Linked DNA regions of Homo sapiens. The protein of the gene in region 1 purifies or fractionates together with the protein of each later gene. This does not show direct contact. Each region holds a gene or a part of one and is shown on either strand. Other genes may lie near its edges.

Region 1 (5,130 bases):
AGAACACCTGTCCAGGCTACTTTAGTGGGATTCTCACAAAGATAGCATAGTACATATGTCGGACCTTTGTGAACTGTGAAATCTTATACAACATAAGGATTGTTTTCCTCTCCATGTTTTCCTTTTTTTCTGCCGCTGACCTAAGCCTGCCGTTGGTCCCACAGGCATTATTGAGCTTGCTGCAGGCCTTTAGGCCTGGAGGAGTCTCTGAACACTGCCCTAGAGACACTTTAAAAAACAGGTAGGCTTTACTGAACATGAAACCTCAGAGCTGTAAATGTAGCATGTGGAATGGTTGAGGGGTAGGAAATGGAGGCTGAGAGTTATATTTGAGCTTACATTGTGCTAGAGGCCAGGTTGGTATCTTCATGCTTAAGTTTGCCATCCAGTGCCAGGCCCCGTTTCTGGCAGCTGGCAGCCAGGATTGGGGTTACTGCAAAGCTCTGGGAGAAGCTGGAATTAGCAGCTACAGTCTCCCTACAAAAGAAGAACAAGAGAAGAATTTAGGCTGGGCTTGCTGACTAAGCATACTTTTACTCCCAAGAGTATCTTGTACAAGATTATACAAGAACCTACTGGAGTATCCAAGAGAGGTAACATGTTTAACTGAAGACTGGGAGAAATTAGTTCTGGTGGGAAATCCTTATGCCCCTGCCCTCGCTCAGCATCGTGATGGGACTCCTGGGGGTAAGTTGCATCCCCTCCATCTAGTTCTCCTGGGAATCCCTCCCTGGAATCTTCCACCACTCTTCTCCCCCACTCTACCCCCTCAACTGCCTCCTGGACCTCTTCCCACCACCCCACCCCTTGGCTCTCTGGTCCTAGCCCCAGCACCAGCTCACGTGAATTCCTGAATGAACACAGTCTTGGTGTACTTGTCTAGTGAATACAGGACAACATCTGTGATCTGGTCAACTGAACAAGCCAGGAAAAGCACATGATTATAATCAGTCAGTCATCCTTGAGACCCCAGCTCAGTGTCCTTAGATGTGACCTTATACATAGGCACACTATACATGATGCAGTGAGACATGCTCATTGACAAAACAAGATATGCATTTTGACAAGCCCATGTTAGAGGGAAAGCCTAGATGAATGCAGACAGGTAAGTGAGATAGAATTTTGGGAAAAGACCTGTGGCTTTGGGACCAGGTGCACAGGGATGGGAAAAGAAACTCACCTGAAATCTTGATTTTTTTGATGACCTTGTTGGTGCAGTTGTTGATAGAAACATTGACAGAGATGGGTTCTCCGTGGTAGTGAACCTAAAGCAGGAGCGGGGACCCATGTCAAGGCTGGAGGACGAATACGCAGATGGAGACCTAGAACCCCTGCTTCCTTAGCGCTATTGCCACCCTGGCTCCCATCTCTGCCTGCCCAAGTAGGAAATCAGTGAAGAAAGGGCATCAGAGGGGTTCTGGGGTGGGAGGCAAAAAGTGGGGGTCACAAACCTCCCTGTCCATCCAGGCCTGGAGTTGTAGGGGCTGAGCTGACAGAAGGAAGCGGCGGATGGTCTGGGCTGAGGGGCCAGGGCCTGCCTCCGGTGGTGCAAATTGTACTTTCCGGACAACCAGCCGCACATAGTCTCTGAGCAGAGACCAAGAGATTAGCCAGAGCGTCCTCCTTTCAGACCCACAGACCTCTCCCATGCCACCCCCATAGTCCAATTGTTGCTTAAGAATGGGAGCAGGGGAAGGCCTCCCTCAGAGAACTCCTCTAGTCCCTTAATGTAAGCATGTAGACCAAAGGTTATTAAACTATGGCCCACTGGCCAAATCTGGCCTGATGCCTGTTTTCCTATGGCCCACAAGCTGAGAATGGTTATATTACATTTGTAAATGGTTGAAATAAATCAAAGAACAATGCTATTTTGTGACATGTGGACATTACATGAAATTCAAATTTCAGTGTCCATAAGTAAAGTTCTATTGGACACACAGCCACACTCATTCATTTCTATACTATCTGTGGCTGCGATTGCACTACAACGGCAGAGTTGAGTAGTTGCAACGGAGACTATAGGGCTCAAAAAGCCAAATATTTCTTTTTTTGGCCCATTACAGAAAAGTTTGCTGACCCCTGCCCTAGATCAAAGAAGGTAAGTCAGAGGGGACTCAGAACCGGGTGTCACTGGTGGCGATGAGGCTGTGGAGGTTAGAAGTGGGGCTATTTCTGTCATGAGAGCAGGATCTGTTTCCTGGCAGAGGCTGGAGGCAGGGATTTTTGGGGACAACCAAAGAATACCTCTTGGAGACTGTCTCCTCTGGGTTTTCAGCACAGAAACTCTTCACTTCAAAGTCAATCCCACAGGGCTGTAAAGGGACAAGGGCAAAGAGAGCTCATTTCCAGTGCTGTCCTCCCTTCCTCATGGGCCTATAAGAAAATGCCTGACCTCTTTCCTTAGCTGTCCATTTCTCCAGTCTTGACTGTCCCACTGTTCCTCTTCCCTGGCACTACCTATCCCTCTTTCTTAGAACCCAGTCCTCACCTTTCCTGCATCTTCAGGACCTGGCTGCAGTGTCACAGAACAGGGCAGGTTGGTCACCATCTAGGGGACAAAAAGGAGATCAGAAAAGAAGTAGAAAAGAATACAAACAAATACAAAAGAAATGGGGAACCCTCTCCCTTGTTGTCCTTCTTGAGCTTCCTCTCTTAATCTTCCCTGGAGACCTTGCCTGCCCAGGGCTTGGGGTCAGTACCTGCAGGGTAAAGGGGTAGGCATTGTCCCCTAGCTTGTGCAGTAGTCGCTCCTGTAGGACTGTGAGGGGCCCCTGAGGGCTGCTGGATTCAGCTGGGACCACTTGCAGGGTCTGCACATACAGATCTTTTCGGAACGTCAGACCAATCACTTCCAAGTCATCACGGCCATAGCGAAAGGCACATGTCAACATGACAAACACTGCAGGCATAGGAGGAAGAGAGTGGTCTGTCAGGCCTGAGTGGGAAGGGGAATCTTAACTGGGTCAAGAAGACACAGAGAGGTGATGTAATATGATCGAAGGCTGGCTGGGCGCGGTGGCTCACGCCTGTAATCCCAGCACTTTGGGAGGCCGAGGTGGGTGGATCACGAGGTCAGGAGATAGAAACCACCCTGGCTAACACAGTGAAACCCCATCTCTACTAAAAAAAAAATACAAAGTATTAGCCTGGCTTGGTGGTAGTGGGCGCCTGTAGTCCCAGCTACTTGGGAGGCTGAGGCAGGAGAATGGCGTGAACCCAGGAGGCAGAGCTTGCAGTGAGCCGAGATCGTGTCACTGCCCTCCAGCCTGGGCAACAGAGCAAGACTCTGTCTCAAAAAAAAAAAAAAAAAAAAAAAAAAAAGATTGAAGGCTATGGGCACAAATGAAAAGATTCTTAATACATTTGACTGCAGTAAAATTTATGTTAAAAGTCTTTATAAAGTCTTCTTTATATTCAAAGTCTTTATAAACAAAGAAAAAAATGGAAAGCCTGGGAGAAAATCTTTGCAACACATATAACACACTGAAGTTTAGAGTCCAAAATATATAAGGACTCCCACACATCAACAATAATGCCAGTATAAAACTGTGCAAAGAATGTGAATAGGCCCTTGCAGAAGTGTGCAAAGTGTGTGAAGGAATGGCCAATAACATATGAAAACATGTTTAGTCTCGTGAGTAATCAGATAAATGCAAATTAAAACCACAACGAGATAAGATTTCACACCCATGAGATTGTCAAAAAATTTTAAATGTGACAACACTACGTGTTGATGAAGATGTGGAGCAAAAGGAGTTCTTACATACTGCTGGTGGGAGTATTAATGCAACCAATTTGGAAGACTATTTGGGATTATCCAGTAAAATTAAATCTGCTCGTAGAGTATGAGCTAATAAGTTGACTTTAAAGGAGCTTTTGTTCAGGAGAGATACATATGATAATGGCCGTCGCATCAACGTTTGTCAGAACATAAAACTGGAGATAATCTAAAAATCTATCAACAGGAGAATGGATAAAAAATTTGTGGTATATTCACATAATGGAATACTAAACCAAGGTTAAAATAAATGAGCTAGAACTTCAAAGAATGCCCTATGGTTTGTATGTGGCCTCTCCATAACTCAGGAGTTGAAACTTGATGGTCATTGTGATGGTATTAAGATGGCCATTAAGAGGTGATTAGATCATGGGGCTTCTTTGTTCATGAATTCCTTTATGAATGGGATTAAGACCCTTATAAAGGAGACCTTTTGCCCTTCCACCTTCCACCATGTGAGGACACAATGTTTCTCCCCTCTGGAGGATGCAGCAATAAGGCACCATCTTGGAAGCAGAGAGCAGCCGTCATCAGACAACAGAACCTGCTAGAGCCTTGATCTTAGACTTCCCAGCTTTCAGAATTGTGAGAAAATAAATATCTGTTCTTTATAAATTACCTAGTCTCAGGTATTTTGCTGTGGCAGCACAAACAGACTAAGACCTGTGCCAACAAGGTTAAATCTCAAAAGCTATTGAACAAGGCTGGGCGTGGTAGCTCACGCCTGTAATCCCAGCTCTTTGGGAGGCCTAGGTGGACAGATCGCTTGAGGACAGGAGTTCGAGACCAGCCTGGCCAACATGGTGATAACCCGTCTCTACTAAAATACAAAAATTAGCTGGGCATGGTGGCATACACCTGTAATTCCAGCTACTCAGGAGGCTGAGGCAGGAGAATCGCTTGAACTCGGGAGGCGGAGGTTGCAGTGAGCTGAGATTGCACCACTGCCCTCCAGTGGGGGTGACAGAGTGAGTCTCTGTCTCAGAAAAAAAAAAAAAAAAAAGCTACTGAACAAAAAATCTAGCTGCAGAATGATAGGTACAGTATGTTACCGGTTATATAAAGTTTAAAAGCATGTAGGACAATATCAAAGTTGATCATAGACACATAAATATGGAGTAGAAGTATGGAGCCATCAAGAGAATAATAAACACCAAATTCAGGGTAGTCGTTATCTGGGGAGGGAGGAGAGAAAGAGGAGAAGGGTTAAGTAGGGAGGGAGGGAGGCAAACTGGATCAGGGAAGGACACACAGGAGGCTTTAGTTTGTTTCTGTAATTCTTTTTAAAGCTTGGTGATGAGTACAGGGTATTCATTATATAATTCTGTATGCCTTGATAAATATTTTATCAT
Region 2 (4,315 bases), on another chromosome or scaffold:
GAAGGCAGCAAGACAATCTTGCAAGGTTACTACTGGACCCCAAAACCAGCTAGGGACACATGAGACAACAAACCTGAAACATCATTGATAGAAAAAAAAGGAAGTGTTCTGCCAGTACAGCAGAAACAGCAGGTTTAACAATCATGTAATACAAAGAAAATAAATACATACCTCTTCACATATTCCATGAAAAAAGCTATCCACCCTTGTGGAGCATATGCTTCGCCACATGATCCTGCTTTGACTATAGAAGTTGGATGACTTGATGAATGCAGCTTAGCAAGGTCTTCCTTGCCAGGAATTGGCAAGGACAGATCTTGAAAGGTCTCGAGGGTTACAGACACCTAAAATTGTTTTGTGTTTTAAAAATGGGATGAACATAATGCAGTAAAACATTTCCAAGGTTAGATTTTAGACTCTAAAGATCAAAGCATGTTTAAATAAGCAAAAAAAACAAAAAACAAAAAAAAACACGCAAATTGAACTGCTTTCATAGTCATAATAGCAAAAAAAAAAACAAAAACAAAAAACAAAACACACTTGCTCTGTACCAGGTATCTTCACGTAAGTCCTGTGCAGTAGTATTAGCATCCCCATTACAATCACAGACACTGCAGCATTAAACACCCCAAATCCAGCCACTGCATCTTGAGGTCCAAACTCTTAAGCACTATTGTATTTATTTTTGAAAATTGACCTTTGATGGTAGTTTTAAAATATTTTTTTAAAAGGGTGAGACAAAATCTGGCATCTAATTTTAAATAGCTAAAAACATGCCTGATAATTCCACTTAAATATTTAGTACCAAAATAACCTACATTAAAACGACCCGATTGAAAGTTCTTAGATTTGACTTGAGATTCTAACACAATAATTGAAATCTTCTTTTTGTTTTTGAGATGTTATTTCATATTCATCATTGCACTAAAGTAAAACTGTACTTAAGAAAAGCTCAAAGAAACTTTGAAGAAGTGTTATTAAAAAATTCATGATGATTTTAATGTATGCTTTGTTATTGTCTATGAATTTGATACTACCTTTAGTATCTGAGTCCCATCCTAAACATGGAAAAATATTTACAAACCATATATGACCAAATGTAAGAGATACATTCACAGCTTTGTACCTGTGAATATCAACAGATTCCCAGTATACAAATTTCATCAGCCTGGGAGAATATGCAGGTGTTACCAATTCTTGTTGCTGAGCAACTTCTCACCTTTATATGTAACCAAAATAGATGACGAAGGATAATATGTGCCTGTCCAATGATGGGTCACCATCCTTTAAACAGGATGCTGCTACTTCCAAAAAAAATTCTACACCTAGAATCAAATTTGTGTTGATGTAAACACAATAAATGCATGTATGCTCATCAATAGCAAAGAGAAGGAATTAAACTTTTCACATCATCTTGTCACATTTTTAAAAATCATTTGACACGAATTTTCTGTGTATTCTAATACCCTCATACTCACCCTGTCACAAGTCAGACACTGCACTGAACTAATGATTGTTCCATCAAATATGTCTGAAATAACACTTCTGTATTTCTTGTGCTGTTTTTTTCTCTTTGGAGATGCAGACTGAGCTAGGATTGAAAAACATTAAAAAAAAATCAAAGCAGCTCCTTTAACATTTTTCTCTGGAATCTTTTTTTGTCTTGTCAATCTTACTTGTATATGATCTCTAGAATCCTTAAACTGTAAAAATTACTGTGTTGAAAATTTTCAAAATACTCTTCAAAAGAGCATAAGTATTAAAAAAATAAAAGAAACTAAGCAGACAAGGCTTAAGATATTTGTTGTTTTTTTTTGTTTTTTTGTTTTGAGGTGGAGTCTCGCACTGTTGCCCACACTGGAGTGCAGTGGTGCGATCTCGGCTCACTGCCAAGTTCTGCCTCCCGGGTTCATGCCATTCTCCTACCTTAGCCTCCCAAGTAGCTGGGACTACAGGCGCCCACCACCACGCCCAGCTATTTTTTTGTATTTTTAGTAGAGACAGGGTTTCACCATGTTAGCCAGGATAGTCTCGATCTCCTGACCTCATGATCCACCCACTTCAGCCTCCCAAAGTACTGAGATTACAGGCGTGAGCCACCGCACCCAGCCTGTTTTTTTTTTTAAAGTATAAATGATCCTTGGCCACCATAAATGTACATATGAGAAAATGAACAAAATTCTAAATTAGCACAAAACCACAAATGCTTCATCACTGGGATGTTTACTTAAATGTTTTACAAGTCAAAAGAAGAGGGGAAGAGGTTAGAAAGTGAGGGAAAGATGATGAAAGTCATCATCAAGCTAAAGATGAAATAGAAGGGGTTCGGTCTCCCTATCCTGACTTGAGAGCAATTCTGTTTTCACTTATTTGTTTTTGTCTCCAGGTAAGGCTTTATTTGAAGAAAAGATTCTATTATTTAAAGTTTTTAAGAGTTCTTTATATATTTCTGGATACATGTCCTTTGCTAGCTATATGATTTATAAATACATCCAACCTTATCTTTCCATTCTCTGAATGTCCTTTGTCAACAAAAATCTTTAATTTTTTTCTTTAATGGATCATGCTTTTAATGTCTTTAAGAACTCTTTGTCTAACCCAAGGCCATGAAGACTTTCTCCTATGTTTTCTTCTAAGAAAACATAATACTGGAACTCCCATATATACCTGGAAGGAATACTAAATGGTAGACACTCTGGTAAAAAGTCTGGCAGTTTAATACAACTATAAGCATTAAACAAACATAAAACCCAGTAACCCCACTTCTAGGTATTTGTCCTAGACAAATGAAAAAATGTTCTTACAAAAACCTATACATAAATTTTAGAGCAACATTATTCATAATTGCCAAAAATTGGAAACAATTCAAAAGTCCACCAGTAGGTAAATAAACAGTGGTATACCCATAAAAAATGAGATATTAGGCCGGGCATGGTGGCTCATGCCTGTAATTCTAACACTTTGGGAGGCAGAGGTGGGGAGATCACAAGGTCAGGAGTTCGAGACCAGCATGGCCCATCTCTACTAAAAATACAAAAAATTAGCCAGGCATGGTGGCGTGCACCTGTAGTCCCAGCTACTCGGGAGGCTGAGGCAGGAGAACTGCTTGAACCTGGCAGGCAGAGGTTGCAGTGGGCCAAGATTGCACCACTGTACTCCAGCCTGGGCGACAGTGAGACTCCATCTCAAAACAAAACAAAAAAAAAGAAACATTACTTGGTAGTAAAAGGAACAAACTATTCAGACACGCAGTAACATATCTGAATTTCAAATGCATTATCCTGAGAGGCAAACCTGTTTCAAAAGACTACATATGAAAAGATTTAAAAAAATCAAAAGACTACATACTATATGATTTCATTTATATGACATTCTAGGAAAAGGCAAAACAATAAGAAAAGAGGATCAAGGGTGCCAGAACATAGGAATAGAGAAATGATCTGATTACAAAGTAGTACTATGCAGGAATTCTTTGGGGTGTTAGAGCTGTTCTGTATTCTGTTTGTGGTGGTGGTAACAAGAATCTATGCTGCAAGTGTTAAAATTCATAAAGCTCTATACAAGAAAAAGTGAATTCAACTGTATGTAAAATTTTAAAAGCAGAGTACCAACACACAAAATTTTTAATCATGTCTATGTAAAATTATGCTATCAATTTTAAAAGATCAAATCATATTTCATAATTAACACTTTAAATTATCAAGTACCAAAACCATCATTTTAAACTAAGACCCAAAGCAAAAGAGACTGAATAAGAGAAACGTTTTACCTTTTTTGTGTGGTGGTGCCAATCCTGGCCACAAATTGCCTGATTTAGGAGGGCTTGCCGATAAACGTGGATTAACACCTTCATTTGATGGAAGGATCTGTGGTGTAGACAGGTCATTCGAATGGACATCAGTGATATATTCTGTAAGATTTAAAATTTGCATTATTACCTTAAATAGTAAAATTATTCTAACTGTCCAATAATGTTAAAGGTTTCTTAATTTGATATTTTGAACACAATCATATTAACAAATGTCAAGTTAAATACTTAACAAAGTGCTTACTAAGCAAAATAACAGTAATCTTCTACCCAGAAATCCAACTAATTTTTGTTTACTTGTTTTTTTGAGACAGAGTCTCCCTCTGTCCCCCAGGCTGCAGTGCAGAGGTGCGATCTCAGCTCACTGCAACCTCCGCATCCTGGATTCAAGCGATTCTTCTGCCTCAGCCTCCCAAGTAGCTGAGATTACAGGCATGTGCCACCAGGCCCACCTCATTTTTGTATTTTTAGTAGAGATGGGGTTTCACCATTTTGGCCAGGCTGGTC

Evidence for each region.
Region 2: the proteins of ARR3 (region 1) and USP33 purify together in Homo sapiens (affinity purification with western blotting, with the first as the bait; one study listed by BioGRID). This does not show direct contact.

Annotation. Positions count from the first base shown.
Region 1 is NC_000023.11:70,273,851-70,278,980, reverse strand, and holds part of ARR3 (arrestin-C), read right to left. Parts: intron 2,900-5,130; coding exon 2,700-2,899; intron 2,549-2,699; coding exon 2,489-2,548; intron 2,313-2,488; coding exon 2,245-2,312; intron 1,588-2,244; coding exon 1,452-1,587; intron 1,266-1,451; coding exon 1,181-1,265; intron 916-1,180; coding exon 843-915; intron 478-842; coding exon 340-477; intron 1-339. UniProt on the Homo sapiens protein: May play a role in an as yet undefined retina-specific signal transduction. Could bind to photoactivated-phosphorylated red/green opsins.
Region 2 is NC_000001.11:77,721,853-77,726,167, forward strand, and holds part of USP33 (ubiquitin carboxyl-terminal hydrolase 33), read right to left. Parts: intron 3,911-4,315; coding exon 3,770-3,910; intron 1,592-3,769; coding exon 1,479-1,591; intron 345-1,478; coding exon 172-344; intron 74-171; coding exon 1-73. UniProt on the Homo sapiens protein: Deubiquitinating enzyme involved in various processes such as centrosome duplication, cellular migration and beta-2 adrenergic receptor/ADRB2 recycling.